3 separate regions of the Homo sapiens genome follow, and regions 1 and 3 are each linked to region 2. The links come from fine-mapping of genetic effects on gene expression. A gene starts in region 2. Each other region holds a variant in brackets. All regions are shown on one strand. Distances are between the middles of the regions.

Region 1 (11,423 bases), 220 kb before region 2:
TCCCAATTCATAGCCAGCCGGTCAGAAGTTCCCAGATTGCAGTTGGCCTCTGAAGTGGGGGCAATCCTGTGAGACTGAGCCCTTAACCTATAGGATGTGACTCTAACTCTAGGTAGATATTACCAGAACTGAATTGAATTATAGGCCTGGAACTTTCGAGCTCACCCCACCATCCTTTTGAAAGAGGAGAGAAGCTGGAGATTGAGTTAATGCTCGGTCATGCCTTCTTGAAAAAGCCTCCATAAAAATCCCTAAACAATGAATTGGGAGACCTATGGACTGCTGAACACATGGAGAAGCTGAGAGGGGTAGCATCTCCTGGCGAAGTATGAAAGTTCCAGTCTTCAAATCATGGCTTAGTCTTTCTGGTTACCAGCCTCCATTCAGATGCCCACCAAAAGTTGCCTCATTAGAACAAGAGGCACTCCTATCATCCAGGAAATTTCAAGGGATTGGAAGCTCTGTGCCACCAGAGACACCCAGTTGATGTTTGCTGGAGAATTAGTATGTGGGGAAAAATAAATCCTACCCATCTGGTGTCAGAAGTGAGGAACTGAGAATGAGTGGTGAGTAGGAGAGGGAAAAACAATTCATGGGGCAAATCTTACTTCATTATTTCTTTTCAAAATTTCTTAGTTTTATGTATTTTTCCTTACTGATTAATTTTAAAACCAGTCTTTTTTAAAACAAAAAAAAGAACTCCAAAGTACTTTGAATTTGCATTAACTAAATATTTGGGGGAAATTGACATTTTTACAATTTGGAGGGTTATAATAATATGGTTTACTATTGATTTAGGTCTTCTTTGTGCTCTTCAGTTAAGTTATAAGGTCTAATTTACTGTTCAGACATATAATTTCAAGGTCTATGACTTTCCTGCTTCAGTGTCTTTTCTAATCCATCATTATTCCATCAGTTCATTCACTCATTCATTCTTTCATTCATTCATTTGTTTTCCAAGATGGCTTTTTCCAGTATGCTTAAAAGGCTAGAGAGGTCTCTAAGATAAGGAACTGCTTATCTTACAGTGACACATTTCATGAAATAAGATAACTGATGCCAAAGTCTTTTGAAAATTTGGAAAATTACCACGTAAATATCTGTTCCATTCTTATACTCAATTAGTCACTAAGTGAAAACATGTAAGCTGAATCTCACAATGACTAATGTTTCTGCAGCCTGCTTAAATAAGCGGTAACTTATTTAAAAATCCAAAATGCTTGCTAAGTCATATATGACTCATACAGCAGAGTCCATTAGTCAGGAATGACTTGTAGGGAAATATTCCTAATATTAGAAAAAGGTTAATTGTGTGAATAAGAAAATAAGATATAAGATCAAGTCTGCTTCTAGCTCTTGAAAATTTTCTTAAAATTGGAGGAGAAACTCCTTTCTCCAAGTAAGAAAAAAACAAATAAAACCACTGATTTATAACAAAAGAAAGCATAAATAAGCTAGTCATTCAATATTAGCCAAGAGCTGAAGAATATAGTCTAACGTAAATACAGCAGCTCAGGAGACAATGACCTTGAAAACTAGCAGCCACAAAAGAAAGAACAGACTAATATAAAAGTATGGACTGGGAGGCAGAAATGGGCAGATCACCTGAGGTCAGGAGTTCGAGACCAGCCTGGTCAACATGGCAAAACCCCGTCTTTACTAAAAACACAAAAATTAGCTGGGAGCTGTGGCGCATGCCTGTAATCCCAGCTACTCGGGAGGCTGAGGAAGGAGAATTGCTTGAATCCAGGAGGCGGAGGTTTCAGTGAGCCGAGATCACACCACTGCACTCCAGCCTGGGCGACAGAGTTAGACTCTGTCTCAAAAGAAAAAAAAAAATATATGGAAATGTAATTAAGCATTCACAATGCAGGTCTACGAGCTCTTGGTGCGCATGGCATTCTAGTTTCTATTTTGATTTTTTAGTTAACGGCTCAACAAATATTTTGGAACATATCATCTCTACAAGGCACTAGTAGATGTTGAAGAGAGACAACATCTTATTGCACATCTGGCCTACAGTAATCTGTGTTTGGTAGGAGTCATGGAGCATTATTTAGTATCTTAACCCAAAGTAGGATACTAACTACACTAGAAATGAAGATTTTTACTTTTTTTTTTTTTTTTTTTGCTTTTTTAAAATAGAGGTGGGGTCTTGCTGTGTTGCCCGGGCTGGTCTCGAAATCTTGGCCTGAAGCAATCCTCCTGCCTCGCCTTCCTAAAGCACTGAGATTACAGGCATGAGCCACCACACCTGGCCAGAAGTATAGATTTTTAAAACTACGTAGTAAAGGCTTTCAAAGGGGAACAAGTTAATGCAAAGTTCTTTGGAAGAGTTAGCATTGGAATGCAGCCTTCAAGCAATCGAGAATTGTTCCTGTAAAGTTGAAGATAAGGAAAAGGGGGCAGAAGTCAAAGCACTGAGCTTACTGTGCACAGAAAAACAAGGTGAATACTCAATTTAATGATGCATGAAGAAAGGAAGAGAAACAGGAGTCCTTTAGACCTTGATTTTCAAAGAGCTTCTTACATGCCATAGGCTGCCCTCAAACTTTTGGTTGTTTTGTTGTTATTGACTTAAGTAAGATAATAAACTTAATCAGAACTGTGCTTTGGAATGATTCATTAAGAAGCCACTCTGTAATGTAAATTGTGAGAGTATTAAGGCAGAGACTGGAGACTGGGGGCTAAATTAGGAAATATTTGTAGCTGATGAGAAACATGGTTGGTAGAATTCTAAAAAGGCCCCTAAATTCCCAACCCTTGGTGCAAAAACACCTTCTCCTAGGTATTCAATCAAACATTAATCTAGGTGTTGCTGTGAAAAGATTTGTGATGTGGCTATGGCCTCAAATCAGTTAAGGTTGAGAAACATTCTAAGAAAGTCTGACCTAATCACAAACCCTTTAATCTGTGTTTAGAGGTCAGCAACAGGGAAGTTGGAGAGATTCAAACTATGATTGCAATTCGACAAGGGAGAGTTTTTCCACCACGGGCTTTGAAGATGGAGAGGACCACATGGCAAAGAATGCAGATGGCCTCTGGAAGCTGAAAGTGCCCTTGGCCAACAACCAGCAAGGAAACAGGAACCAGAGTCTTACAATAAAAAGGGCTTAAAATAACACAAATTTATGATAGCACAGCTTCTGTAGATGAGATGTACTAACGACGTGATTGAGTTCTGTGCTCAAGTTATCATAAGACTGAAATCAAGGTGTTGGGTAGGCTGAGTCCTTCTACGGAGACTGGGAACAATCCACTTCTCAACGCATTCTGGTGGCATTTAGGGATAAGCTGGTTTATCCAGGCCAGCTTCACAGAAGATGAATATAGTTCCATTTCAGTTATTAGAGACCTACCCAAAGATTTAGAAGAATGTTTGATTATTTGAAAGCATTTTAAAACTATTCATTCAACAAGGAAAAGTTGAAAAAGAGTTCAGTACCTATCATGTAAATTATTAAGGTTGGTGCAGAAGTAATTAGCAAAAACCGCAAATACTTTTGCACCAACCTAATAATTAACTCATGAGGAATGGTAAAAGTGAGTAAGCTTTTTAGTTAAGAAAACTGGATTTATAGAGTTATTCTAGCTGTGTTCTATTCAATTATTACCTTGATTTCTTTCATTCTTTCTTTGGTTATAATATGAAAGCAATTACTATATTAATTATTTCACAGGGTTGTTAGTAGGACCAAATTTATTAAAATATACAAAGGACTTCACAAACTGGAAAATATTTTACAGATTTGTAATTATAATTATTACTGGATCTAGTCATAGTTATTTGTCTGCAAACCATAAATTATCTCAGTGCATTCAAATTAACCTGGTTGTGAAGATTTAAAATTTTTTACTTTATTTCCAGTTTTAATAAACAGCATACTGAAAATAGTGCCACAGGCACATCATAAAACTAACTACAAAGTAAACAGTTCAGGCCAGGGGTGGTGGCTCACGCCTATAATCCCAGCACTTTGGGAGGCCAAGGTGGGTGGATCACCTGAGGTCAGAAGTTCCAGACCAGCCTGGCCAACATGGTGAAACGCTCTCTCTACTAAAAATACAAAAATTAGCTGGACATGGCAGCGCACACCTGTAATCTCAGCTATTCAGGAGGCTGAGGCAAGAGAATCACTTGAACCTGTGGGGCAGAGGTTACGGTGAGCTGAGATGGTGCCACTTCACTCCAGCCTGGGCCACAGAGCCATCTAAAAAAAAAAAAACAAACAAACAAAAACGAGTTCAGACGACCAATTGGTAAGTAAAACAATTGGTTTTTTATCCTAATAAAAAAGAATTTGCCATTCAATCACTAACATCCAAAACTATTTACAGTGCTATATTCTGAATATTTGTGTCTCTTCCACCCAAATTCATATGTGGAAATGTTAACCCCCAAGGTTAACATAAGAGGTGGGTCCTTTGAGAGGCGATTAGGTTATCAGAATGGAACCCTCACAAATGGGATTAGTGTCTTTATAAAAGAGACCCCAGAAAGATCCCTTCCCATTTCTACCATGTGAGGTTACTGTGAGAAAACCCTGTCTGTGAGGAAGCAGACCCTCACCAGACACCAAAGCTACCAGTGTCTTGTTCTGGGACTTCTCAAACTTCAGAACTGTGAGAAATACATTTCTGATATTTATCTGCCACCCAGTTTATGGTGCTTTCTAATAGCAGCCTGAAAAGATTAAGACAAAAGGAAGGAAAAAAAGCAGATATTTGCTTTATAAATATCTCTGTGTGTGTGTGTGTATGTGTGTCTGTGTGTGTCTGTGTGTGTGAGAGAGAGAGAGAGAGGAAGAGAGAGAGAGAGAGAGACAGAGAAAGAGAGACAGAAACAGAGACAGAGTCTCACTCTGCCACCTAGGCTGGAGTGTAGTGGTGCGATTTCAGCTCACTGCAACCTCTGCCTCCCAGGTTCAAGTGATTCTTGTGCCTCAGCTTCAAGCAGCTGGGATTACAGGTGCCCGCCACCATGCCAGGCTAATTTTTTGTATTTTTAGTAGAGACGGGGTCTTCCTATGTTGGCCACTCTGGTCTCGAATTCCTAGCCTCAAGTGAACCACCCACCTCGGCCTCCCAAAGGGCTAAGATTACAGATATGAGCCTCCACACTCAGCCTAAATATCTTAAATATGAATGTCAAAATAAAACTAACAGCAATCTAATGATCTTGACCACTTTGATTTACATGGAGACTAATAATTTTTTAAATGATGTTTCAATGACATATACTGTATAGTCTTTTTAAACCTGAGACTGATTTACTGTTTCAATATATCAGAGAACATTTAAAGAAAATTGTGTCATTGCCTCAGGATTTTCCAATGTATAAAGAAAGAATTTCTTGTAATGACCTCGTAGATATGGTACTTAAGAGTAAGTAACAAATAGACAAATAATTTTAAAACAAGAAATGGTTGAGACAGAAATGACCTTCCTGGAAAATAAATGCAATTAGAAAAAAGACTATTGTTACATGAAATGAATTATATGAAGGATGTTTCTAGGCAAACAGTAGGTGGCAACATCTACACAGACTTGTTTTAGAAATGCTTGTATAACATCAAAACAAAACTTACAAGCTAATGATTCATGAAATAGGGAATTTTCCAAAACTCACATGTTAGTAGAGATATTTATGCGCAAATCCATTGTTTTGTATTCTTTCTATTTTGGAATGTCATGCTTATGCCTTATCACAAGGACTCCACTAAGATCAATAATCTTAAAAATGTTTTGTTTGGCCAGGTGTAGTGACTAACGCCTAGAATCCCAGCACTTTGGGAGGCTGAGGCAGGATTGCTTGAACCAAGAATTTCGGGACCAGCTCTGGCAATATAGAGAGTCTCCATCTCTACAAAAAATACGAAAATTCACCAGGTGTGGTGGTACATGCCTGTGGTCCCAGCTACTTAAGAGGCTGAGGCGGGAAGATTGCTTGAACCTGGGACATCAAGGCTTCACTGAGCCATGATCACACCACCGCACTCCAGTCTGTCTCTCTCTCTCTCTCTTCCTCTCTCTCTCTCTCACACACACACAGACACACACACACACACACACACAGACACACAGTTTTATTTGTGGGTTATGTTAGAGACTGTTCATCTGTCTCTCAAACAAAGGGATAGAATTTTGTTCCCCTCACATTTCTTGGCCAGATTAGGTGGTTGAATTAGATAAGAGTAAGGATTAAGGGAACCATGCAAACAGCTGGATTTTTTTTTAATGCCACAATATGACCTCAATTACTGGAGTTCACAGAAGTTGCAGAAGACACATCCGGTGGTCAAGAAAAGGGGAAGCTGCCTTAAGTTTCCTTTTCTCTTGTGAGCGCAACAACCTCCATCTGTCTTTCTCTGTAACGCTGAAGACAGACACGTGACCCTGGTTCTCACAGAAGAACTTTCAAATCTAAAAAGCCATTTTAGGAAATAATTGGAAAAGTCTCTGTAGCCTTTGAGCTCCAGGATATTTGTTTTCCAGAATGATGAGATTGGTTATTGAATGTTTTAATGGTTGGAAACCAGAGAGTAGCTTTAGAGGCAAGCAGAGGCGCTGCTTTTTAACAGCAGAGGTCAGTAACACCAAAGG[G/A]GAAGGAAATTGAGCAGTCTGGCCAGAAATTGCAGATTTCTGTTGCAGACCCAACAGGCAAGAGGCAATAGGCAACATCCTGAGACACACAGGAAAACCTGATCCTTAGTACCTAACAGGGTCTCCTGTGCAGAAAATGTTCCCATCCCTGGCAACAGTGCCTTCCTGGATATGCTCACAGATGTTTAAGACTCTCCCTACCAGAGAAATAGCTTCTATCACAGAGTATTTTGTAGGGAACCATAACAGAACGTAAGGTGAAGTTTTCTACTATACTCTTATAATTATTGAAATTTTTCCTACTTCATTAATACCTGGACTTAGATTTCTCTTTTAGAAAGAAGCAGTTTGTAGCAAAAAAAAAAAAAAAAAAAGAAAAAATAATGTTTTTCACAGAAATTGAAAAAACAATCTCAAAATTTGCATGAAACCAAAAAAGAGCCTGAGTAGCCAAAGCAGTCCTCAGCAAAAAGAACAAAGCTGCAGACATCACACCACCTGACTTCAAAATATATTACAAGGTTATAGTAACCAAAGCATCATTACAGTGATACAAAAACTGACACATAGACCAATGAAACAGAATAGAGAACCTGGAAATAAGTCTACATATAAGGCAACTGATTTTTTTTATAAAGTTGCCAAGAATATACATTGGGAAAAGGGACACCGTCTTCAATAAATGGTGCTAAGAATACTGGATATTTATACACAGAAGAATGAAACTAGACCCCTATCTCTCACTACATATAAAAATCAACTCAAAACGGATTAGACTTAAACATGAGACCTCAAACTATAAAACTACTAGGGAAAAAACCTAGAGAAAACACTTTAGGGCATTGGTCTAGGCAAAGACTTTATGGCTAAGACCTCAAAAGTACAGGTAACAAAAATAAAAATAGACAATGGTACCATATTAAACTAAAAAGCTTCTGCACAACAAAGAAAACCATCAATATCATGAAAACACAGCCTGCTGAATGGGAGAAAATATTTGCAAACTGCTTGTCTGACAAGGGACTGATATCCAAAATACATAAGGAACTCAAACAGCAAAAAAAATAAATAAATAATCCCTTTAAAAAGTGGGCAAGAGGTCTGAATAACATTTCTTGGACGAAGACACACAAATGGCCAGCAAATACATGAAAAAATGTTCAACGTCACTAATCATCAGGGAAATGTAAATTAAAACCAAAATGAGATACCATCTTACCCCAGTTAGAATAGTTATTATTAAAAAGACAAAAATATAACAGATGCTGGTGAGGATGCAAAGAAAAGGTAACTCTTGTACACTGTTGATGGGAATGTAAATTAGTACAGCCACTATGGAAGCAGTATGGCGATTTCTCAAAAAAACTAAAAATAGAAATACCATATGATCTATCACTACTGGGCAATTATCCAAAGGAAAGGAATCAGTATGTTGAAGAGACATCTGCGCTCACATATTTATTCCAGCACTATTCACAACAGCAAAGACAGAGAATCAACCTGTGTTCATCAACAGATGATTAAAGAAAATATGATACATATACACAATGGAATACTATTTAGCCATAAAAAAGAATGAGATAATACCATTTGCAGCAACATTGATGGAAGTGGAGATCATTATGTTAAGTGAAATAATCCAGACCCAGAAAAACAAATATTGCATGTTCTCACTCATATATGGGAGAAAAAAAAAAAGTTGATCTCTTGGATGTACAGAGTAAAATGACAATTACTAACGACTAGGAAGGGTATGGGTGTGGGTGTGGGTGTAGGGGAGGAAAAAGAAAGAATAGTTTCTAAAGTTCCATAGCAAAGAAGGGTGACTACAGTAAACAACAATGTATTGTATAGTTCAAAATAGCTACACAGAGGACTTGAAATGTTCCCAACACATAAAAATGATAAATGGAAAAGGTGATGTGTATCCTAAATACCCTGACTTGATGGTTACACATTCTATGCATATAACAAAATATCACATGTACCCTACAAATACATACAAATATTATGTATCAATTTAAAAAAAAATGAAAAATAAAATATCCCTACATTCTCTTGGCAAATATGTATTGAGTGCTGGGCACTGTTCTAAGTACTTGGGGCACAAAAGTGAAGAAAATGTACTTTGTCTCTTTCCTCATGGTAATTAGTCTAGTAGAGGCAGGCAGAAATTGAACAACAAAAAGAGTACATCCTATGCCAGGTGGTGTATTCATTTCTTTGGGCTGCCATAACCAAGTACTGTAAACTGGGTAACTTAAAACAACAGAAATTTATTGTGTCATTAATTCTTATGGCTGGAAGTTCAATCAAAGTGTCCACAGAGCCATGCTGTCTCTGAAACCTGGAGGAAAATCTTTCCTGGCCTTTCTCTCGCTTCTAGTCGTTTGCTGGCAATCTTTGGCATTCCTTGGCTTGTAGATGCATCACTCCAGTACTCTGTCTTTTTGTTTTGTTTTGAGACGGAGTTTCACTCTTGATGCACAGGCTGTTGTGCAATGGTGCAATCTTGGCTCACCACAACCTCTGCCTCCCAGGTACAAGCAATTCTCCTGTCTCAGCCTTCCAAGTAGCTTGGATTACAACATGTGCCACCATGCCTGGCTAATATTTTTTGTATTTAGTGGAGACGGGGTTTCACCATGTTACTCATGCTGGTTGTGAACTCCTGACCTCAGGTGACCCACCCACCTTGACCTTCCAATGTGCTGGTATTACAGGCGTGAGCCACTGGACCTCGCCAGTACTCTGTCTTCACATGGTGTTATTCCTGTATCTGTTCACATATTCTTCCTTCTACGCACATCTATATATATATGTCCAAATTTCCCCTTTTTATAAGGACACCGGTTATATTGCACTAGGGCCCACCCTAATAATCTCATCTTGACTACATCTGCAAACACTGTATTTAAAAATAAGATCACATTCTGAGATCCTGAAGGTTAGGACTTCAAGTTATCGTTTTGGGGAAAAACAATTCAACTCATAGTCCACATTTAAAAAAATAATAATAAAGCAGGCCAGGCACAGTGGCTCATGCCTATAATCCCAGCACTTTGGGAGGCTAAGGCAGGAAGATCACGTGAAGTCAGGAGTTCGAGACCAGCCTGAACAACATGATGAAACCCCATCTCTACTAAAAAAATACAAAAATTAGCTGGGTGTGGTGGCTCGTGCCTGTGATCCCAGCTACTCGGGAGGCTGAGGTGGGAGAATCGCTTGAACCTGAGAGGCAGAGGTTGCAGTGAGCTGATATCATGCCACTGCACTCCACCCTGGGCGACAAGAGCAAAACTCTGTCTCAAAAAGTTAAAAAATAAGAAAAATAAAAATAAAGCAGAGTAAAAGAAATAAAAGTAACAGTCAAGAGATGAGGCATGTTTAGGTAAGGTAGTCAAAGATGTGACATTTGGATAGAGAAGGTAAGATGTGAACAGACACTGAGGAATTGTGCCATGCATATACCTAGGAGAAGAGATATCTTCTCCTGAAAATATAGGATGTTAAGTGCCAAAACTGCAACATGACCAATTGTCTTCCAATCTTTAAAGCATCTTTATGGTTACAAAGAAATGTAAGTTAAAATCACAACCCCCAATTTTTTTTTATACTTTAAGTTTTAGGGTACATGTACACAACGTGCAGGTTTGTTACATATATATACATGTGCCATGTTGGTATGCTGCACCCATTAACTCGTCATTTAACATTAGTTATATCTCCTAATGCCATCCCTCCCCCCTCCCCCCACCCCACAACAGGCCCCGGTGTGTGATGTTCCCCTTCCCGTGTCCATGTGTTCTCATTGTTCAATTCCCACCTATGAGTGAGAACATGCGGTGTTTGGTTTTTTGTCCTTGCGATAGTTTGCTGAGAATGCTGGTTTCCAGCTTCATCCATATCCCTGCAAAGGACATGAACTCATCATTTTTTTATGGCTGCATAGTATTCCATGGTGTATATGTGCCACATTTTCTTAATCCACTCTATCATTGTTGGACATTTGGGCTGGTTCCAAGACTTTGCTATTGTGAATACTGCCTCAGTGAACATATGTGTGCATGTGTCTTTATAGCAGCATGATTTATAATCCTTTGGGTGTATACCCAGTAATGGGATGGCTGGGTCAAATGGTATTTCTAGTTCTAGATCCCTGAAGAATTGCCACACTGACTTCCACAATGTTCGAAGTAGTTTACAGTCCCACCAACAGTGTAAAGTGTTCCTATTTCTCCACATCCTCTCCAGCACCTGTTGTTTCCTGACTTTTTAATGATCGCCATTCTAACTAGTGTGAGATGGTATCTCATTGTGGTTTTTATTTGCATTTCTCTGATGGCCACTGATGATGAACATTTTTTCATGTGTCTTTTGGCTGCATAAATGTCTTCTTTTGAGAAGTGTCTATTCATATCCTTTGCCCACTTGTTGATGGGGTTGTTTGTTTTTTTCTTGTAAATTTGTTTGAGTTCATTGTAGATTCTGGATATTAGCCCTTTGTCAGATAAGTAGGTTGCGAAAATTTTCTCCCATACTGTAGGTTGCCTGTTCACTCTGATGGTAGTTTCTTTTGCTGTGCAGAAGCTCTTTAGTTTAATTAGATCCCATTTGTTAATTTTGGCTTTTGTTGCCATTGCTTTTGGTGTTTTAGACATGAAGTCCTTGCCCATGCCTATGTCCTGAATGGTAATGCCTAGGTTTTCTTCTAGGGTTTTTATGGTTTTAGGTCTAACATTTAAGTCTTTAATCCATCTTGAATTAATTTTTGTATAAGGTGTAAGGAAGGGATCCAGTTTCAGCTTTCTACATATGGC
Region 2 (11,423 bases):
GGGTCAGTTTCTTTCCAGTAAACCAAGACATTATTATCAGTGCCTGGGAATGTTCAAGCTGGTTTGGGTTCAAGCCAGCTGAGGAAAACCTATGGCTACAGCTGGCTGGGTCACTGTGATTTTGGTCAAGACACAGAAAGGAAGTGGGGAAAACGGGTACCCTAGAATACCTTAATTTAAAAATACTTTTGCTAAAAAATGCTAACAGTCATCTGAGCCTTCAGCAAGTCATAATCTTTGCTGTTGGAGAATCCTGCCTCAGTGATGATGGCAGCTGACTGATCAGGGAGGTAGTTGCTGAAGGTTAAGGTGGCTGTGGCAATTTCTTGAAATAAGACAATGGAGTTTGCTGCATTGATGACTCCACAAAAAATTTCTCTGTAGCAGGCAGTGCTGTTTGATAGTATTTTACACACAAGAGAACTCCTTTCAAAGTTGCAATCAGTCCTCTTAAAACTCACCCACTGCTTTATCAGCTAAGTTTATGTGATATTCTAAATCCTTTATCATTTCAACAATGCTTACGGCATCTTCACCAGCAGTAGATTCTATCTCAAGAAACCACTCTCTTTTCTCCTTCATAAGAAGCAACTCCTCATTCATTCAAGTTTGATCATAAAATTGCAGCGATTTAGTCAACTCTTCAGACTCTGTTTCTAACTCCAATTGTCTTGCTATTTTCACCATATTTGTAGTGATTTCCTCCACTGAAGTCTTGAACGCCCTCAAGGTCATCCATGAGAGTTGGAGTTAACTTCTTTCAAACTCCTGTTCATGCTGATACTTTTACCTCCTCTCATGAATGTTCTTAATGGCATCTAGAATCCTTTCCAGAATGTTTTTGGTTTACTTTGCTTAGATCCATCAGAGGAATCACCATCTACAGCAATTTATAACCTTATGAAATGTACTTGTTAAATATTAAAACCTGAAAGTCAAAATTATTCCTTGATCCATGGGTTGCAGAATGGATGCTGTGTTAGAAGGCATGAAAACAATATTACTCTCCTTGTACATCTCCATCAGAGCATTTCAGTGACCATGTGCATTGTCAAGGAGCAATAGTATTTTTAAATAAATCACGTTTTATCAGTAGGTCTCAACAGTGGACTTAAAATATTTAGTGAGCCATGCTAAACAGATGTGCTGTCAACCAGGTTTTGTTCTTCCACTTATAGAGCACAGCAGAGTAGATTTAGCATAATTTTTAAGGGTCCTAGGATTTTCAGAATGGTAAATGAACATCTGCTTCAACTTAAAGTCACCAGCCACATCAGCCCCTAACAAGAGAACTGCCTGTCCTTCGAAGCTTTGAAGCCAAGCATTGACTTCTATAGCTATGAAAGTCTTGGACAGCATCTTCTTCCAGTATAAGACTGTTTTGTCTACATTGAAAATCTGTTATTTAGTGTAGCCACCTTCATCAATGTTCTTGGCTAAATCTTCTCAATAACTTGCTGCAGCTTCTCCATCAGCACTTACTGCTTCACCTTTCATTTTTATGTTAGGGAGAGGGCTTCTACTCTTAAACCTCATGAATCCACCTCTGCTATCTTCAGACTTTTCTTCTACAACTTCCTCACCTCTCTCAGCCTTCATAAAAATGAAGAGAGTTAAGGCCTTGCTCTGAATTAGGCTTTGACTTAAGAGAATGCTGTGGCTGGTTTTCTATCCAGAACTCTAAAACTTTCTCCTTATCAACAATGAGGCTGTTTCACTTTCTTATCATTCCTGTGTTCACTGGAGTGGCACTTTTAACTTCCTTCAAGAGCTTTTCCTTGGCATTCACAACTTGACTGTTTTGGGTATGAGGCCTAGTTTTCGGCCTATCTCTGCTTTCAACTTGCCTTACTCAGCTTAATCATTTTTAGCTTTGATTTAAAGTGAGAGATGAATGACTCTTCCTTTCACTTGAACACTCAGAGGCCACTGTAGGGTTATTAATTGGCCTAATTTCAGTATTGCTGTGTCTCACTGAGGGACTGGCCCATCAGCGGAGCAGTCAGAATATATTCAACATTTATCAAATAAGTTTGCCATCTTAAATGGGTACAGTTTGTGGTGGCCCAAAACAATTCCAATAACAATATCAAAGATCACTGTTCACAAATTGCCATAACAAATGCAATAATAATTTAAAAGTTTGAAATATTGGGAGAATTACCAAGATGTAACACAGAGACATGAAATGAGCACATGCTATTGGAAAAATGGCTCTGATAGACTTGCTCGACAAAAAGCTGTCACAAACCATCATTTTGTTAAAAAAAAAAAACAATATTTGCAAAGCACAATAAATGAAGGTATGCCTGTATACTACATATTTATTTTTAATAATCATATAAGAAAATTAATTGGATATAAAATAGGCTGTTCTAAAACAGCAAGAGGGAAATAAACTTTAACAATGCTGACAGCAGCCATGGCATACTTGAATTTTTAGGACTCTTGTTAAATATGGGTATGGGAACTTACCCTCTGCACTAGTATCCAGACACTTACTAGATTATGGCCCATTGGGGTATTTGCCTCTATTACATATATTTGCTAGACTGTCATTATACCTTGCAATCTAGTGTCTTTTTCTAGGTTGATATTGTCACGTTTAATCTATTATGGCAATGATATTACTCTTGCTATGTTAAATGTTTTTATCAGACTTCCTTGTAGCCCCAACCAATCTGAGAAGATTGAAAATCAAGGAATCCTTCACTCCTTTTGTAAACTTGGTAAAATGGAATCAATGTTTACTAGATCTGCTGTTCTTGTGAAGATTTCTCTGTTCTTCTTCATCAAGATTTGCCAATCTTCCTCTGCACTCTTGCCTTCTGCAGTCTTTCCTCTTCCATAAAAATATCGCTTATAATATTCTTTTTTTGAAATGAAGTCTCACTCTGTCTCCCAGGCTAGAGTGCAGTGCCATGATCTCGGCTCACTGCAGCCTCTGCCTCCCAGCTTTCCAGTGATTCTCCTTCTTCAGCCTCCCAAGTAACTGGGATTAGAGGTGCCTGCCACCATGCCCAGCTAATTTTTTGTATTTTTAGTAGAGATGGGTTTCACCATGTTGACCAGGCTGGTCTTGAACTCCTAACTCCTAATCTCAGGTGATCCACCCACCTTGGTCTCCCAAAGTACTGGGATTACAGGCATGAGCCTGTATGCCACCATGCTCAACTTCCTTATAATATTCTTCTAGTCTTATTTCCCAACTGCTGGCTTTTATATTTTGAATTGTCAATAGAAAGCCCTGCCTATCGTGATGAGGTTAAGGACACATGTTTTGCTGAGAGAAGTAACTTCCAGCTGAGAATCTTGTTTAGCAGGAGAGAAAATCCTCTATTTTAGAGCCTCTCCTGGAGCTTAGAGTAAGCATTGGCTTTTAGAGGTGTTTTCTCCCTTTTTGATGTCTGGAAGCACTATTTTCAAGTCTGTTAGAGACCCACTTTAAATAAGTACAGGTGCTAATGCTCTGAGTGCAAGTCTGTAAGGGTTAGTGAGTCCTCAAATCACAGAAGTCTCCTGACCAATGCTGGGATGTTCTACTGTTCTCCAAGAATCTGCAGCTTAAAAGTATTAAACTAAATACAGCAGACACCCTCAGCATAGCAGTGAACCACAATGGCAGCTGACAAGCAGGAACATTTAATGGATTGGTCAGCAAGACCACACTTATATCTTGTTTAAAATGTGTCCTTTCCTTTGGGAGACTGAGGCAGGCAGATCTCTTGAGGTCAGGAGTTCAAAACTAGCCTAGTCAACATGGAGTTTTCTAAAAGTACAAACAAATTAGCCAGGTGTGGTGGCAGGTGGCTGTAATCCCAGCTACTTGGGAGGCTGAGGCAGGAGAATTGCTGGAACCCAGGAGGCTGAGGTTGCAGTGAGCAAAGATTGCACCACTGTGCTCCAACCTGGGCAAAAGAGCAAGACTCCATCTCAAATAAATACATAAAATAAAATGCATCGTTTCTCTCAACAGCAAAAGCCTTATTTTTTCATCCTTTAAATATGTTACTTTCATAGTAGGATAAGATGGTACCTTGTCTGAGAGGCTAAGACCCCCAGGCCACTTGAGAATTTGAGAGCTTTTAGAACTTGATGAGCATAGCTGACTGGATACTTCGTGTCAGCACTGCTTGTGGTAATTACAGGATCTGTGGATCACAAGGCTCACAACTTGTATCACAAGTTCTACAAGAAAATTGGCTAACACATATTTGGCTCTGTTAATCATTTGCTGAGTTTATATCTTGTCCCACCAAATGTATTTTTTGAAATGCCATTACATGAAAAAGTTTCACTATTCCAATTATCTGTGTTTACCAACTTGTGGAGTAAGAGTGGCTGACTGAATATGTGCTTTTTAACTACACTATTATATACATTGGCCAAGCTTTTTATATTAACCCTACCCATGAAGTATCACCAATATTTCCCCCAGTGTGAAATTGACATTTGTCAAAAGCCTTTTGCCATATAAAAGTTTTTAGTTCTTATATATGAAATCTGTCCCTTTTTTTCGACATGAGTTCCCCAGCCTGCTTAGCTTTGCCCCTACCACCCAAGATTTTTAAGCTTTCTATATTTTCTTAGAATTTAAGATTTTAAAGTCTTTACTTTTTTAAATCATTTATTTGTAAAGGGACATATTTCTCAAGTGTGCTAGTTTTCCTTGATTTTAATGGATTAAAATGTGTCGTAGGTGAGCCATTTTCTTCCAAATGACGAAGAGTTTTTGTTCCTTTGAAAGTCTGGCCCAGGATTTTGTTTGTTTTTGTTTTTTTAAAGTTCTTATTTTACTTACAGAGTTAAGAAAGTTGAATAACTATACAACCAGTCTCTAAATAGAAGTTCTAATAAATCCTAAGATGTTGCAGGGCACTGAAAGAGGACAAAATTTGATCCCTAAAGCCCTCTCCAATCTCATACTCGGTGAAAATAACAAACAAAAGGCTTCAGTGTTAGTGGAAAACTGAGTTCTTAAAAAGCAGGTAAAGGTCCTGTTTGGTCCTTCTCCAGAGCTGAGGAGAAAGGGTTTTCAGATTATAAATAACAGAGGTGCCCTTGTATGGCACAGAATTGCGATAAGACTTTACTTCTTAGGGGCTTAAATAATGAAGTCAGTAAAAGAGGACTGAAAACGAACATAAAGAAGAGCTTTAGCTTTGACGCAAAGAATTACATCAGTGCTTGACAAAACCGAGGATTCTTAATTTCTAAAAACGCTTTCTTTAAGCACTTCCTAACCTTTCATTATCTGAGACAACATATCAAGTGAGCAGCAGTACAAAGGATGCATGTGATTTCGAAATGCCACAATTGAGCCAACTGCAGTTGCACGCGTACGTAGTATAGAGAGGTGTGATCAAAAAAAGAATATAGGGAGCATAGGGCTTCGTCTGCATCAAAAGATACTCTCCCCATCTTCTATAGCCTTAAGTTTTGCGAAGGTAAGTTTCTCCCCGCTTGAAAGCGCCCCCAGGGACAAGAATTCATCTTGACCAAGCCTAAGGCCGTGGCATGCAAGGTGTTGAGTCACCGGGTACAGCGGTCTTGCGACATAAATATTATTTGATGACGAAGGTACTCGGGGCCCAGGTGCCAAGGTAAACCACTGGCAAAGATGACCGTGGTTAAGGCAGTAGAAAGCAGGCTCGACACTGAGACGCGGTTCCAGCCCTAGAAGGATTGCATTTTACGATTCAGGCAAACTTCGAGTCTCCTCATGTGACATGTGTGCACTCCTGGACCGTTTTAATTATGAGAAACGTGGTTTGCAGCATGATTCCTTCCAGTCGATAAATCGGAATCTCTCTCGCTCCCACCCCTTCTTAACTTCAGGCTTCCTGCATCCCGGAGCACTCCCGGCAGCCCCTTCCCTCCCCCGCCCCGGGGATGCTCCGACTCGGCGCTTAGCCATTCATCAACCGGTTCACACCGGCGGCGGCCGCCGCGGAGTGACGTCCGGAGGGGGCGGGCCTCCGCCCCCGCCTGTCGGCTCCTGGCCCGCGGTTCCAGGCCGCGATTGGTGGCTGGAGGGTTGCACGTCGCGCCGGCTATAAAGGGGAGGGCTTGTGACGCAAGGGCGCCTCGGCGCGTGTATTGGCTCCTTCGGCTGCGGGCCGGCTCGGCTACGCGCTCTGCTCCGAGCCGCTCACTGCATGGTAGAGTCTGGTGCCCCCGCCGCCGCCTGCATCGCCGCCACCGCCGCTCCGCCACGACCACCGCCGCCTCCTGCCCTGCAGCCACCGCCACCGCCTGTGTCGCCGCCGCCTCGGGACCGGCTGTATGATTAGGCCACAATCTTCAATGAGTAAACATATTCCTGTGAGTAGCCGTCGCATCGTCGCCTCTCGGGCTGGGAATCCACGACCGGCCCCCCATCCCCGCTGTCGCCTTTGTTCGGAGCCCGGCGTCTCCTCCAGGTTGCCCCGGGTTGCGGTTCCGGTGGGTCCCGGGTGGGAGCGGGCGGGTTATGGCCCTGTGGCCGGCCGATTGCGGCCGGCTGTGCGGAGGCAGATGCCGGGCCCCTCGGGGCTGCGGGGTGGCGGTTGGCCGCCGGAGGCACCGGCTTTTGAGTCCCTCCCGAGCCCGGAGCGACGGGGGCGGCGCGGTCCGGCTTCTGCGGCGGCCGGGGGCAGTTTCGGCTTCCGCAGCGGGCCGGGTGGGTGGCACAAAAGCCGCTTTGTGACCGCCGCCTCCGCCCTTGGCCCTTTGGTCTGGCGCGACCCGTCCGGGCATGGCAGGCTCCGCGGCGTCCCGGGGCCTCTTTGTTCGGCCGGAGGAGAGTGGCTGCACTGGGAGCGGGAGACGTGGCCCGGGGTGGGGCGAGGGCTGCGCGTGTCACTGCGGAGCCGGATACGGGGAGGGCGCGGCGGTGGCGGGTTCGCCTCCAGATCCGGGCGGGCGTGGGGTAGGCCGGACAGCCAGGCACGGGTGGTAACGATCTGGTTCCAGAGCTTCTCGGAGCTCCGGGGTGGGCGCGGGACAGCCACTGGGTGCAGCTACACTCTTGTGCTCGACGGCCGGGACCCGAGCCTCAGACAAAATGGCCTCGGCGCCCGCGCCTGACTGAAGGCGCGGCGCGAACCCGTGATTGCGGCGCGGAGAGGGGGCGCAGCGGGCGTGCTCGGGCGCACACAGCCGCGTGCGCGGGGCGGCGGCCCTCTGGGGCATTCCGCGAGCTGCACCCCTGCCCGGGCCAGAGTGGGGTTCTGCTAGGTGAGAACTTCGGCCGTCCGCCCCGCCCTCCTCCCAGGCTCCACCTGGTAATTCGAGCTGTTCCGGATTTATCGCCCCACCTCGGGCTCGTGATAATGGGAACAAGTCTAGTCTTGTCCTTTCTCTGGGCCAGTCGTCGAGAAATGGCCTGGTTCGGAGCGTCTTGGAAACTGACAGGGCTACTGTTAGTTACACTGACGCGAAGGACTTCCCGTCCGGGCACCAGCATACATTTCCCCTGCCAATTTTGGAAGGGCCCTGGATGGCGCCTTTTAATCGGGGACTGTTTAGAACTATCCCTGAGCTCTGTGGTGTAATATGTTGTTGCCTCCTGTTGGTTTGTGGCAGCAGTAGCCAACCAGAGACGGAATTCTGAGGGTTTTTTATCTTCTGTCCGCGGAGCCCCCTACCAGTCCACGAGTATTAAGTTATTTACACTACGATTGGAACTGTTGACCTGCCCGACATCTAGATCCTGAGGCAGTGCTTCCTGTTACTCAGTCAGTTGAAAACTAGAAAACTAAATCATTCCCAAGAGTGAGCAGCATTTTACACATGCTTTCTTAGGTGCCCTAAGACCTAAATAGATGTGGAACAGACTATACAACGAATTGTTTGTGACAAAGGAGTTACACACATTAATTGGCTTGACTCTGCAGTATAATAATGATTTAAGCTTCTGCACAGAGATTACTCTTTCCTCCTCTCCCTTCTTGTATATGATTGTGATTATAATGCAACTGATAGGTGGGAGGGAAAAAATCCCCATTATGGATAGTTTTTCCTGTGGGTAGGAGATTGGGAATGGAGGAGTGTCTTGGGCGGAACAGAAATCTATCGGTGGCCACCACTGCTTTAACAGACGAGTCCCCCCATCCACTAGGTGGCTCCACTCAGTAAAAATAACCATTTCAGGAAGGGAATTCTTAATATAGTTCTTTCTCTGCTTCCTGATGAAAGTGCTTACTTACATGAAGGGATATGGCCAGACTAGGTTGTAGCCGACAGGAGTTTTAGCTATTAAATATGGAAATAGTGGTGTGAAATACTGCCTCAAATTAGCTTTTAATTGAAAAAAAGGTAATACCTAGAAATTAGAATACTGTGATGAGTCATTATAAAGCTTTTAAAGATCATTGTATGTCATTGGGAAAGTGTCAGAATACACTTTTTATTCTACGGAGGTTGTATTTAGAATTTGGGGTGAAAGTATAATGAAATTATTTTCAGATTACTACAATCTGTATTCACTGTAACTGTGATGGCTTTGTAATTTAGACACTTAATTTTTTAACCCAGCTGACCAACTAGGTGAAGTAACCTCTGAGGGCTTGTTTGAACAAACTTGTGATAATGAAAGTTACCTTTTTTATGGGACCTTTTGATAAATGATTGTTAATGCTAGTTGTATGTTTTACCAGAAAAGTAGACTGGGTTTTTGACTTGATGTTTTCTGCAGTAATCATCATAAGAATTATTCTTCAAAATTTAGCAAAGTTCTAGAAACTATAACTAGCATGGGACTATTTAAAGGTGTAAAATGGAAATGGGAGCAGATCGTTTGAATTTTAATTTTAAGACTTCAAATGCTTAAATTTAAGCATGGAAACTAATGGAACCTTTTGTTAAAACACTTTGGTAATGAGAGTACACATGAAGTGCTTGAGGCAGTGACTATGAATTACTGCTCTTGTTAACCTGTTATTAATACTTTCCTTAGTGCCCTCTTTACTCCCGAGTACACAAGTACCTTATAAACTATTTGGAAGAAGACTGATTATTAACATCAGTGTCTTCCATGTACATATTTTAAAAATATGCTGTGACTATTGGTTTAATGTTTGATATTGGCATAAAAATGGTTTAGTTCTTAAGGGGGAACTTAGAGAAAATATAAATACATTCATATTTGTTTATATTTATTGGTTACAGTAGTTACCTTGCTTTTGAGACCTGCCACTTCCACCTTCAACATCCCTTTGTCCGCCTTCTCTGAGTTGGATTTCAGTTTTGAGTTGTATATGTGAAATTTTGGTTTTAAAATACAAAAGAACATTATTAAAATTATGAATATTTTCTTTACAGTTATAAATGAGAGTTGTTTCCTTTTTAGATTCATAAGCATACATTCTTATGATATTTCACATAACAAGTTGATTTTCAGAGACTCATTTTCCTCGTCTTCAGTTTAATGGGAATGATAACAGATTGTTAAGGATAAAGTGAGATTCTAAATATAGGACTTAAATCAGTCTAAGAAAAGGATATAAAAGCATAAAGTTGGAAAAGAACTTAGATGTTTCAGTTTATGAGTTAAGTAAATTATGCAAGACTAATAACTTCAGAGTTATCTGGAGTTTGTATTAATGTGTAAAAATGTTTTTGTTAGTTGGAAAAATCAACATAAAGTGTATGTAATTACAATGTAAAGAAAACAACTATCGAAAGGGATAATTATTAGAATCATATAATTATATATTATATATAGATAGTATATATACAGAGAATATAACTAGATAGAATATATATGAATATATATATGAATTTCACAAAAATGTAACAATGGGTTTGGTTTTTTTTTCTGAGGAATCTTGGTAATAGATCATGGATTTCAGTTTAATCTATCTGACTGCTTGTTTTATGCTGATTGATTTAATCTGTACTCACCCCTTGAGTTTTGCAATTCAAGTAAAAGTCGATGAAGCGGCTCAGGCCCTGCTTTAGAAAAATAGTTGTGTACTTAAATAGTGTAAAACCCTAATGTATTTCTTTTGAATTGGAAAATAACTTATTCTCTCTTTCTGTCTTTTTCTTTTAAACAGCAATTCTGTGGTGTTCTTGGTCACACATTTATGGAGTTTCTGAAGGGCAGTGGAGATTACTGCCAGGCACAGCACGACCTCTATGCAGACAAGTGAACTGTAGAAACTGATTACTGCTCCACCAAGAAGCCCCCATAAGAGTGGTTATCCTGGACACAGAAGTGTTGAATTGAAATCCACAGAGCATTTTACAAGAGTTCTGACCTGGATGGGGTAAACCTCAGTGCACTTCTTTTCTGTTGGCCTCAGTATTACTGGATTGAAGAATTGCTGCTTCTTGTTAGGAGGTTCATTTCACTTATCATTACTTACAACTTCATACTCAAAGCACTGAGAATTTCAAGTGGAGTATATTGAAGTAGACTTCAGTTTCTTTGCATCATTTCTGTATTCAATTTTTTTAATTATTTCATAACCCTATTGAGTGTTTTTTAACTAAATTAACATGGCTCGAATGAACCGCCCAGCTCCTGTGGAAGTCACATACAAGAACATGAGATTTCTTATTACACACAATCCAACCAATGCGACCTTAAACAAATTTATAGAGGTAAGATTTGATATGTTTTAGTAGCTTAAATTGATTGCAATATAATAGTGGGACTTATAGCTAACAAAATAAAAACTACTTTGGAAAAAATGAGATGATATACCTACAATTCCAGTTCCCAGAAATAAATGTCAATGTCTTCTATAGGTTAGAGGTATATTTGTACATTTTGAGAAGGGCATGTGCTTGAGTTAATAGTTATTGTACCTGAGTTTGCTTGAATTGGTATGTGGACAGTAAAACAGTATAGCTCTTACTTATCTTGTAAGAAATTTACATGGGAAAGGTTGCCATTTATGGATTTTTTATATATCTGCTTAACCTAATGACTAATGCCATAAACCAGTTGGTTTTTCTTGAACCCCATCTGATGCTTAGAATCCAATTTTCAACTACAAATTCTGTTCCTTCCTAATGGTAGCTATGTAGCCAAAACTCTACCTGCCTCTTTTTACTAGGAGAAAGGAATTGAATGCTGAATAATATATCGGGATGTGCACATGTTTTATTTTATAAATACCTACAGTTGTTAAGAAATAGCAAATAGGCCTCTCAGAACATAATGGAAATACTTTTTTTTCCTTTTTTTGAGATGGAGTCTCGTTCTGTCACCCAGGCTGGAGTGCAGTGGCATGATCTCAGCCCACTGCAACCTCTGCCTCCCGGGTTCAAGCAATTCTCCTGCCTCAGCCTCCCAAGTAGCTGAGACTACAGGCGTACGCCACCTTGCCCAGCTAATTTTTGTATTTTTAGATGTAGTTTCACCATATTGGCCAGGCTGGTCTCGAACTCCTGACCTCAGGTGAGCCACCACGCCTGGCTGGGAAATACTT
Region 3 (9,355 bases), 210 kb after region 2:
GGTGTGTGTGTGTGTGTGGTATTTTTTCTATGCTTAGTCATATTTTCTTTTAAACAAAAATGCAATCTGCACTAAGCTGTAGAAAATATAATATTATACCAAAAAGTTGAACATCATAAATAACATTAACTTTTTTCTTGTAGCATTAACTATTTTTAAGTGATGGCATATTTTCTTATATCAAAATATATTTAATAAACCTATAATTATTATACCATTGACTTATTTATACTTTTTGCTATTAGAAATAAAATTGTAATGAATATCTTATGTGTATATCTTTGTCCATTTAAATTATTTTTAGTACATATTTCTAGAAGTAGAATTACTAGGGGAAAAGATATAGATGCTTTGAAGTATGCCTAAGTGTCCCCCATAGATCACAACTGGACTCAGGAGACTGGGATACCCCTTTCTTCACAGGCACTACCATGCCTGGGATTACCATTCCATTTCATTTTTACATGCGATAGCTAATAAAATACTATTTTACCGTTTTTGGTTGGGTATCAAAAATCTTTTAACAAATTTATTGGTCATTCATAATTTATATTATAATTTGTATTTATAGTATATAAAGAGAGTCTCCTTATATAATGAGGACATTAGCTATTTGTAATATACGGTAAATAAACTTTCTCCAGTTTAATATTTACCACTCAATTTTGCTATGGTAGTTTTTTTTTTTTTTAGGTAAAGAAGTTTATGTTTATGTTGTCACATTTTTCTCTTTTTTCTTTCAGAGATTTTGCCTTTCTATACATCTTTAGAAAGAACTTCTCGGCCGGGAACGGTGGCTCATGCCTGTAATCCCAGCACTTTGGGAGGCCGAGGCGGGTGGATCACGAGGTCAGGAGATTGAGACCATCCTGGCTAACATGGTGAAACCCCATCTCTATTAAAAATACAATTAGCCGGGCGTGGTGGCGGGTGCCTGTAGTCCCAGCTACTCGGGAGGCTGAGGCAGGAGAATTGTGTGAACTCCAGAGGCAGAGCTTGAAGTGAGCTGAGATCGCGCCACTGCACTCCAGCCTGGGCAACAGAGCGAGAGTCTGTTTCAAAAAAAAAAAAACCAAACAAACAAAAATAACTTTTCTACCCCAAGATTGGATAAATATATGTAAATAAAAAGGACAGTTCAGTGAAAAATTTGAAATGAAAGTGTTTGAAATCCTGAAATGTATTGTAATTTTACTCAGCTCCTTTAGCAGTTACTTATAGTTTATTTGCAAAGTTCTTTCAAATAAATGGGAACATCAACCAGAAATAAGGTCTTTAAAATGATAAAATAAAGGCAAGATTGAATTTTATTTTCAAAACTTTTTTTTGGAGGCATAAAAAGCTTTCTTTTTCTTTTTTTTGTCATTGTTATACTTTAAGTTCTAGGGTACATGTGCATACCTTGCAGGTTTGTTATACTGTATACATGTGCCATGTTGGTGTGCTGCACCCATTAACTCGTCATTTACATTAGGTATTCCTCCTGATGCTATCCCTCCGCACTCCCCCGACCCCATGACAGGCCCCAGTGTGTGATGTTCCCCACCCTGTGTCCAAGTGTTCTCATTGTTCAATTCCCACCTATGAGTGAGAACATGCAGTGTTTGGTTTTCTGTCCTTGGGATAGTATGCTCAGAATGATGGTTTACAGCTTCATCCATGTCCCTACAAAGGACATGAACTCATCCTTTTTTATGGCTGCATAGTATTCCATGGTGTATATGTGCCACATTTTCTTAATCCAGTCTATCATTGATGGGCATTTGGGTTGGTTCCAAGTCTTTGCTATTGTGAATAGTGCTGCAATAAACATACGTGTGCATGTGTCTTTATAGCAGCATGTTTTATAATCCTTTAGGTATATGCCCAGTAATGGGATCGCTGGGTCAAATGGTATTTCTAGTTCTAGATCCTTGAGGAATCCACTCACTGTCTTCCACAATGGTTGAACTAGTTTACAGTACCGCCAACAGTGTAAAAGTGTTCCTATTTCTCCACATCCTCTCCAGCACCTGTTGTTTCCTGATTTTTTAATGATCGGCATTCTAACTGATGTGAGATGGTATCTCATTGTGGTTTTGATTTGCATTTCTCTGATGGCCACTGATGATGAGCATTTTTTCATGTGTCTGTTGGTTGCATAAATGTCTTCTTTTGAGAAGTGTCTGTTCATATCCTTTGCCCAGTTTTTGATAGGGTTGTTTGATTTTTTCTTGTAAATTTGTTTAAGTTTTTTGTAGATTCTGGATATTAGCCTTTTGTCAGATGGGTAGATTGCAAAAATTTTCTCCCATTCTGTAGGTTGCCTGTTCACTCTGATGGTAGTTTCTTTTGCTGTGCAGAAGCTCTTTAGTTTAATTAGATCCCATTTGTCAATTTTGGCTTTTGTTGCCATTGCTTTTGATGTTTTAGACATGAAGTCCTTGCCTATGCCTATGTCCTGAATGGTATTGCCTAGATTTTCTTCTAGGGTTTTTATGGTTTTAGGTCTAACATTTAAGTCTTCAATCCATCTTGAATTAATTTTTGTATAAGGTGTAAGGAAGGAATCCAGTTTCAGCTTTCTACATATGACTAGCCAGTTTTCCCAGAACCATTTATTAAGTAGGGAATCCTTTCCCAATTTCTTGTTTTTATCAGATTTGTCAAAGATCAGATGGTTGTAGATGTGTGCTATTATTTCTGAAGGCTCTGTTCTTTTCCATTGGTCTATATCTCTGTTTTGGTAGCAGTACCATGCTGTTTTGGTTACTGTAGCCTTGTAGTATAGTTTGAAGTCACGTAGCGTGATGCCTCCAGGTTTGTCCTTTTTGCTTAGGATTGTCTGGGCAATATGGGCTCTTTTTTGGTTCCATATGAACTTTAAAGTAGTTTTTTCCAATTTTGTGAAGAAAGTCATTGGTAGCTTGATGGGGATGACATTAAATCTATAAATTACCTTGGGCAGTATGGCCATTTTCATGATATTGATTCTTCCTGTCCATGAGCATGGAATGTTCTTCCATTTGTTTGTGTCCTCTTTTATTTCATTGAGCAGTGGTTTGTAGTTCTCCTTGAAGAGGTCCTTCACATCCCTTGTAAGTTGGATTCCTAGGTATTTTACTCTCTTTGAAGCAATTGTGAATGGGAGTTCACTCATGATTTGGCTCTCTGTTTGTCTGTTATTGGTGTATAGGAATGCTTGTGATTTTTGCACATTAATTTTGTATCCTGAGACTTTGCTGAAGTTGCTTATCAGCTTAAGGAGATTTTGGGCTGAGACAATGGGGTTTTCTAAATATACAATCATGTCATCTGCAAACAGGGACAATCTTACTTCCTCTTTTCCTTATTGAATTCCCTTTCTTTCTTCCTCCTGCCTGATTGCCCTAGCCAGAACTTCCAACAGTATGTTGAATGGGAGTGGTGAGAGAGGGCATCCCTATCTTGTGCCGGTTTTCAAAGGGGATCCTTTCAGTTTTTGCCCATTCAGTATGATATTGGCTGTGGGTTTGTCATAAATAGCTCTTATTATTTTGAGATACATCCCATCAATACCTAGTTTATTGAGAGTTTTTATCATGAAGAGCTGTTGAATTTTGTTAAAAGCCTTTTCTGCATCTATTGAGATAACCATGTGGTTTTTGTTTGTGGTTCTGTTTATATGATGGATTACATTTATTGATTTGTGTATGTTGAACTAGCCTTGCATCCCAGGGATGAAGCCAACTTGATCATGGTGGATAAGCTTTTTGATGTGCTGCTGGATTCAGTTTGCCAGTATTTTATTGAGGATTTTTGCATTGATGTTTATCAAGGATATTGGTCTAAAATTCTCTTTTTGTGTTGTTTCTCTGCCAGGCTTTGGTATCAGGATGATGCTGCCCTCATAAAATGAATTAGGGAAGATTCCCTCTTTTTCTATTGATTGGAATAGTTTCAGAAGGAATGGTGCCAGCTCCTCTTTGTACCTCTGGTGGAATTCAGCTGTGAATCTGTCTGGTCCTGGACTTTTTTGGGTTGGTAGGCTATTAATTATTGCCTCAATTTCAGAGCCTGTTATTGGTCTATTCAGGGATTCAACTTCTTCCTGCTTTAGTCTTGGGAGGATATATGTGTCCAGGAATTTATCCATTTCTTCTAACTTTTCTAGTTTATTTGTGTAGAGGTGTTTATAGTATTCGCTGATGGTAGTTGGTATTTCTGTGGGATCGGTGGTGATATCGCCTTCATCATTTTTTATTGCATCTATTTGATTCTTCTCTCTTTTCTTCTTTATTAGTCTTGCTAGCAGTCTATCCATTTTGTTGATCTTTTCAAAAAACCAGCTTCTGGATTCATTGATTTTTTGAAGGGGTTTTTGTGTCTCTATCTCCTTCAGTTCTGCTCTGATCTTAGTTATTTATTGCCTTCTGCTAGTGTTTGAATGTGTTTGCTCTTGCTTCTCTAGTTCTTTTAATTGTGTTGTTAGGGTGTCAATTTTAGATCTTTCCTGCTTTCTCTTGTTGGCATTTAGCCAACCATTTGACTGACTAGGTACCAAATAAGTAATAGCTTTTTTTTTTAAACTGCAGTATAGCTTTTTTTTTTTTTATCCTGGGTTTCTAAATTATTGCAGTAAACTGATTACATTTTCCCATATGGGCTCTTCTTTGAAGAATCTCATATGATTAAAAAAAGGAGAGAGAAAAAAATTGAACTCACAAGAAACCGAAAGTACTGACCGTGTTGGCTATTTTTAGATGAGAATAACTCTCATTTACAGGGTTGTTAATAAATCTGAATCTATCTCATGTCCACTCT[A/G]TTCAGAGTAGTAAATATTTAATAACCTCCATATCAATGAGCAGTAGTTGCTGTAACACTAGAAGCTTATTTCCTGTTCATGTAAAGTCCAAAGGGTGGTTAGGGTTGGCATCCAGGTGAGTTGGCAAACAGAGTACAGGACTGTGCAGAAGATTTTCATAGGCAAGGCCTGGAAGTAGCAACTATTACACCTGCTGACATCTCACTGGCCAGAACTCAGGCACATGGTCATGCATAGCTGTAAGAGAGTCTGGGAAAGATCTGGTGGTAACAACATGTCACAAGCATGTATTATGTGAAAGCACCATTCCAGGTGCTGTGGAGATCTGTTATCAGTAAAAACTAAAAATCCTATTCTCCAGAAGCTTACTAAATTCTAAATTAAGACATACATTCTCTAGGTATATAATTATATTAGGTATGAAATGCTAAGTGGGAAAAGACTTGGTGCTCCAAAGACTTCAGAAAGAGCTCACTCTCAATGAGTGAGCTCAGAGAGTGGGCTCTCATTGAGGAGGTGTGATTTGAGCTTGCTTTCCAGGCAAATGGAATTTGAAGAGGTGGAGAATGCTGATTTAAGCACGGGCCCTGAGGCAGGGAAAATAAGACATACAGAGAGGCAGTGGCTAGATATAGTGATAGTTGATTTTATGTGCCAACCTGACTTGGCCATGGGGTGCCCAGATACTTGGTCAAATATTGTGTGTGTGTGTGTGTGTTAGGATGAGATTAACACTTGAATTGATAAACTGGGTAAAGCAGATTGCCCTCCCTAATGTGGGTGGGCCTCATTCAATCACTGAAGACCTAAATGGAACAAAAAAGAGGGAATTCTTCCTGCCTGATTACTTGAGCTGGGACATTGGTCTTTTCCAGCCTTCGTACTTGGACTGAAACATTGGCTTTTCTTGGGTCTTGAGCCTGATGGCTTTCAGACTGGAACTCACACCACTTGCTCTCCTTGTTCTTAGGGTTTCAGACTCAGGCTGGAGCTACACATCAATTATCCTGGGTCTCCAGGTTGCTGACTGTGGATTTTGGGACTTCTCAGCTTCCATAATCATGTGACCCAATTCCTTATTAAAAATCTCTCTCTCTCTCTCTCTGTGCACACCTGATTGGTTCTGTTTCTCTGGAGATGCCTGACTAATACAGATAGATTTTATTGAATTAAAAAATCAGTGGAAGCGAGTTAAGTATAGAAAAAATACATGGGTTTTGGAATGTCAGGGGTGTTAGTCCATTCTCACATTGCTGTAACTTACTACCTGAAACTGGGTAATTTATAAAGAAAAGAGATTTAATTGGCTCATGGTTTCACAGGCCATGCAGGAACCATGGCTGGGGAGGTCTCAGGAAACTTACAGTCATGATGGAAGGTGAAGAGGAAGGAGGTATGTCTTACATGGCTGGAGCAGGAGGAAAAGAGTGAAGGGGGGTGATACACACTATTAAACAACCAGATCTCATGAGAACGCACTATCACAAGAACAGCAAGGGGGAAATCTACCCCCATGATCCAAACACCTCCCACTTGGCCCCTCCTCCAGCACTGGAGATCACAATTTGACATGACATTTGGGCAGGAACACAAATCCAAACCATATCACCATGTAAAAAATTCAGTTATTATTCTAGAGTTGACAGGGTGTCTGTTGCGTTCTAGAGCAGGAAAATGGTATAATTCATTAGCATGGCAATAGGGTTATGATGTGTCAGTTAATCAGGGAAGGGTGAGTAGTCAAAGATGACAGTAAGCCTGTCATTCTAACTTCAGTTGCATCAGAATCACCTGAAGAGCTCATTAAAATACATATTACTGGGCCCCATTCCCTGAGTTTCTGGTTCAATTACAATTTGCATCTCTAACAAACTTCCCAGTGATGCTGATATTGCTGACCCAGGGACCACATTTTGAGAACCACTGTACAAAGGATTCAAACAAGTATTAGAGGGACTGGTAGCAATAGTAAAAGAAATAAGTAAAGAAGTATATTCAGAAAAGGCATTTGTGGTGAAGATGAGATGTTTCACTTCAGTTATTCTGCTTCTATAGCTGCCTTTAGCACAATTAACAGCTCAGCAAGATTATCTACAGGCAACAGAACTTCTAGTGAAAGGACCCAGCTTATTTTCACTTGTGGCCTAACCAGTTTTACTTGTTTCTTCCCCTTATTCCTCCTTTCCCTTCTTCCATATCTTCTTGTCTTCCTTCCTTCATTCCGTGCCCAGTCTGAGACCACCATTCATGAGCCTCATTCTGAGAACTCTGCAGCTTTGTAGCAGATGCAACTTTGGAAAGCAGAGGAGAGGAGAACTGATCTTATTAGGGCAGATAAAACAGTAAGGCACAGCGTATTTGGCAGATGTAGATTATTTAAGGTGGTTAGTCTCAATACCTTTATGAGCATTAAAGGTCATAGAAAAAATAATGGTTCATTATAAGCCATTTTTTAGAACAAAAACAAATGTGCTTTATTAGCAGTAAGGATTTATATTTTAGATCACGAACTTTGGATTAGAGTTATTTATCAAGAGTTTATAGGAATCGGCTGGGCACGGTGGCTCAAGCCTGCAATCCCAGCACTTTGGGAGGCCGAGGCAGGCGGATGGCTTGAGCCCAGGATTTCAAGACCATCCTGGGCAACCTGGAAAATCCCTGTCTCTAATAAAAATACAAAAATTAACTGGGTGTGATGATGCAGTTCTCAAGTTCATGGATAGTAGGCCAGACCTGGTTGAGTGACTGAGAACACTATAAGAACAGACCTTTGACCAAGTACCCTGGGACTAGGATCTACCAAAAAGCTATCTTCACCAAATGAATTGTTATTACAATTTAAAGCATGTCTTTATTTTATAACTCTACTACAATATAAATCAGCTTTGTAAGGATATGTTAGCTGGGTTTAGTGGCTCAGCTACATGAGAGGCTAAGGTGGGAGGATTGATTGAGCCCTGGAGATGAAGGTTGCAGTGAGCTGAGATGGCACCACTGTACTCCAGCCTTGATGACACAGCGAGACTCAAAAAAAAAAAAAAAAAAAGGTAAAGTAAAATAAAAATAAAGAGTTTATAAAAATGTAAAAGCCTAGATCAGATAATATTTTATTGCATTATTTAATTGTAATTCTAAGGACAAATGTGATATCCTTACTCCAACTATTAAATTCTTTCAGAAAATTCCATTTGCTTTGCTTCGTTATGATTAATTAATGTGGTGGCTTCCACATCATTCTCAGCAAATTAACCCAGGAACAGAAAATGAAACACCTCATGTTCTCACTCATAAGTGGGAGTTGAACAATGAAAATGCACGGACACAGGGAGGGGAACATCACATACCGGGGCCTGTCAAGGGGTGGGGGGCAAGGGGAGGGAGAGCCTTAGGACAAATACCTAATGCATGCAGGGCTTAAAACCTAGATGATGGGTTGATGAGTGTAGCAAACCACCATGACACATGTATACTATGTAACAAACCTGCACATTCTGCACTTGTATCCTAGAACTTAAAGTTAAAAAAAAAAAGAGATAATTTAAAAAATATATGGTGGCTTCCAAATCTGGGAGGCTTGTTAAAATGCAAATTTTTAGATCCCACTGTAAAGATTTCAATTCAATAGTTCTTGGGTAGGGTTCAGAAATCTGTGTTTTTAAGAAGTTATCCTATATTATTCTTCAGAACCAGTAGAGATCAGCTTTGGGAACCATGGATTTATGGTACAGTTGCAATTTGGTTGTCCTGGTAAGTTGGTAACAATACGCCATGATTTATAATAAATAGTAAATGCTAGTTTAGAGTGGAGGGAAGGCAGACATTAAGAGAGGATCCAAGAGAAGAATGATAAAATTAGGGGATCTCAAGGTCCTGAATTTTCTATAAGACTGTGGCATAAGTGGCAATTTCCAAGAAGACTTGCCCAAGATTCCCATACTCACTAAAGACTGTGGCAGTTGACATACTTCCAGGAGTGTGCAATCTTAATGTTTCTGTAAGAGAAAGGGCCAGCTCTGTGTGTGCTGATCTCATTTGAACACGGAACTATTTGAACACAGGAAGACAGACTGTGGCAATAAGATTGCTCACCCAAGCACAATGTTGTCCTTAATCCTCTTGGCTTGCTCTGGCCTCTGTGGGCTACCCCTTGGTGGTATGGATGGGTTGACTGCAGTCTGTCTCTTGCCTTTTGAACTTCAAAGTTAGATGGACTTTCAATTTTTACTGTGACTCTTTGAAGTCTACCCTGCTCAGCCTATTTTAAAAAGCACCCTGTATAAACAATTACCCATAATCCTGATTCCTTTAAATCATGCTCTCCATTTCCCTTTTCCCATTGAACTTATCACATTATATGACTATATAATTAACTAATTACATTTAGTGTTTATCTCTCCAACTAGTTATAAGTGCAGAAATCTTTGATTTGTTCATTAAAACATCCTAAACATCTAGTACATATGTAGTAAGTGGTCAATAAATAGTAAATGAGGCTGGGCATGGCCTGTAATCCCAGCACTTTGGGAGGCCAAGGCAGGCGGATCACCTGAGGTCGGGAGTTCGAGACCAGCC

What was found. PIP is the estimated chance that this variant, and not a neighbour inherited with it, causes the effect.
Region 1: its variant is fine-mapped to the expression of PTP4A1 in whole blood (TOPMed, PIP above 0.99).
Region 3: its variant is fine-mapped to the expression of PTP4A1 in whole blood (TOPMed, PIP above 0.99).

The regions. Positions count from the first base shown.
Region 1 is chr6:63,346,631-63,358,053 of GRCh38, forward strand. It overlaps a transcript of LGSN not described here. Among named protein-coding and RNA genes, the nearest start is that of LGSN, 32 kb to the left of the region's middle. RefSeq lists enhancers at 501-1,700, 5,973-6,082, 6,153-6,422, 6,523-6,612. The variant G/A (reference allele first, on the strand shown) is at 6,604.
Region 2 is chr6:63,566,396-63,577,818 of GRCh38, forward strand. PTP4A1 (protein tyrosine phosphatase 4A1) reads left to right here and starts at 6,085. Exons shown (of 6, transcript NM_003463.5): 1 at 6,085-6,324; 2 at 10,041-10,590. The coding sequence starts at 10,486. LOC124901228 (translation initiation factor IF-2-like) reads right to left here and starts at 7,173. Exons shown (of 2, transcript XM_047419610.1): 1 at 7,137-7,173; 2 at 1-7,035. The coding sequence starts at 7,173. The coding sequence ends at 6,290. It overlaps LOC128125822, which reads left to right and starts at 6,085. Exons shown (of 2, transcript NM_001415059.2): 1 at 6,085-6,324; 2 at 10,041-11,423. The coding sequence starts at 6,286. The coding sequence ends at 10,136. It also overlaps a transcript of LGSN not described here. RefSeq lists enhancers at 5,071-5,808, 5,809-6,544, 5,869-6,163, 6,545-7,280, 7,217-7,586 and 1 more and silencers at 5,827-6,246, 6,547-6,676.
Region 3 is chr6:63,778,395-63,787,749 of GRCh38, forward strand. All of the region lies in intron 39 of EYS (eyes shut homolog), which reads right to left. Among named protein-coding and RNA genes, the nearest start is that of SCAT8, 24 kb to the right of the region's middle. The variant A/G (reference allele first, on the strand shown) is at 4,783.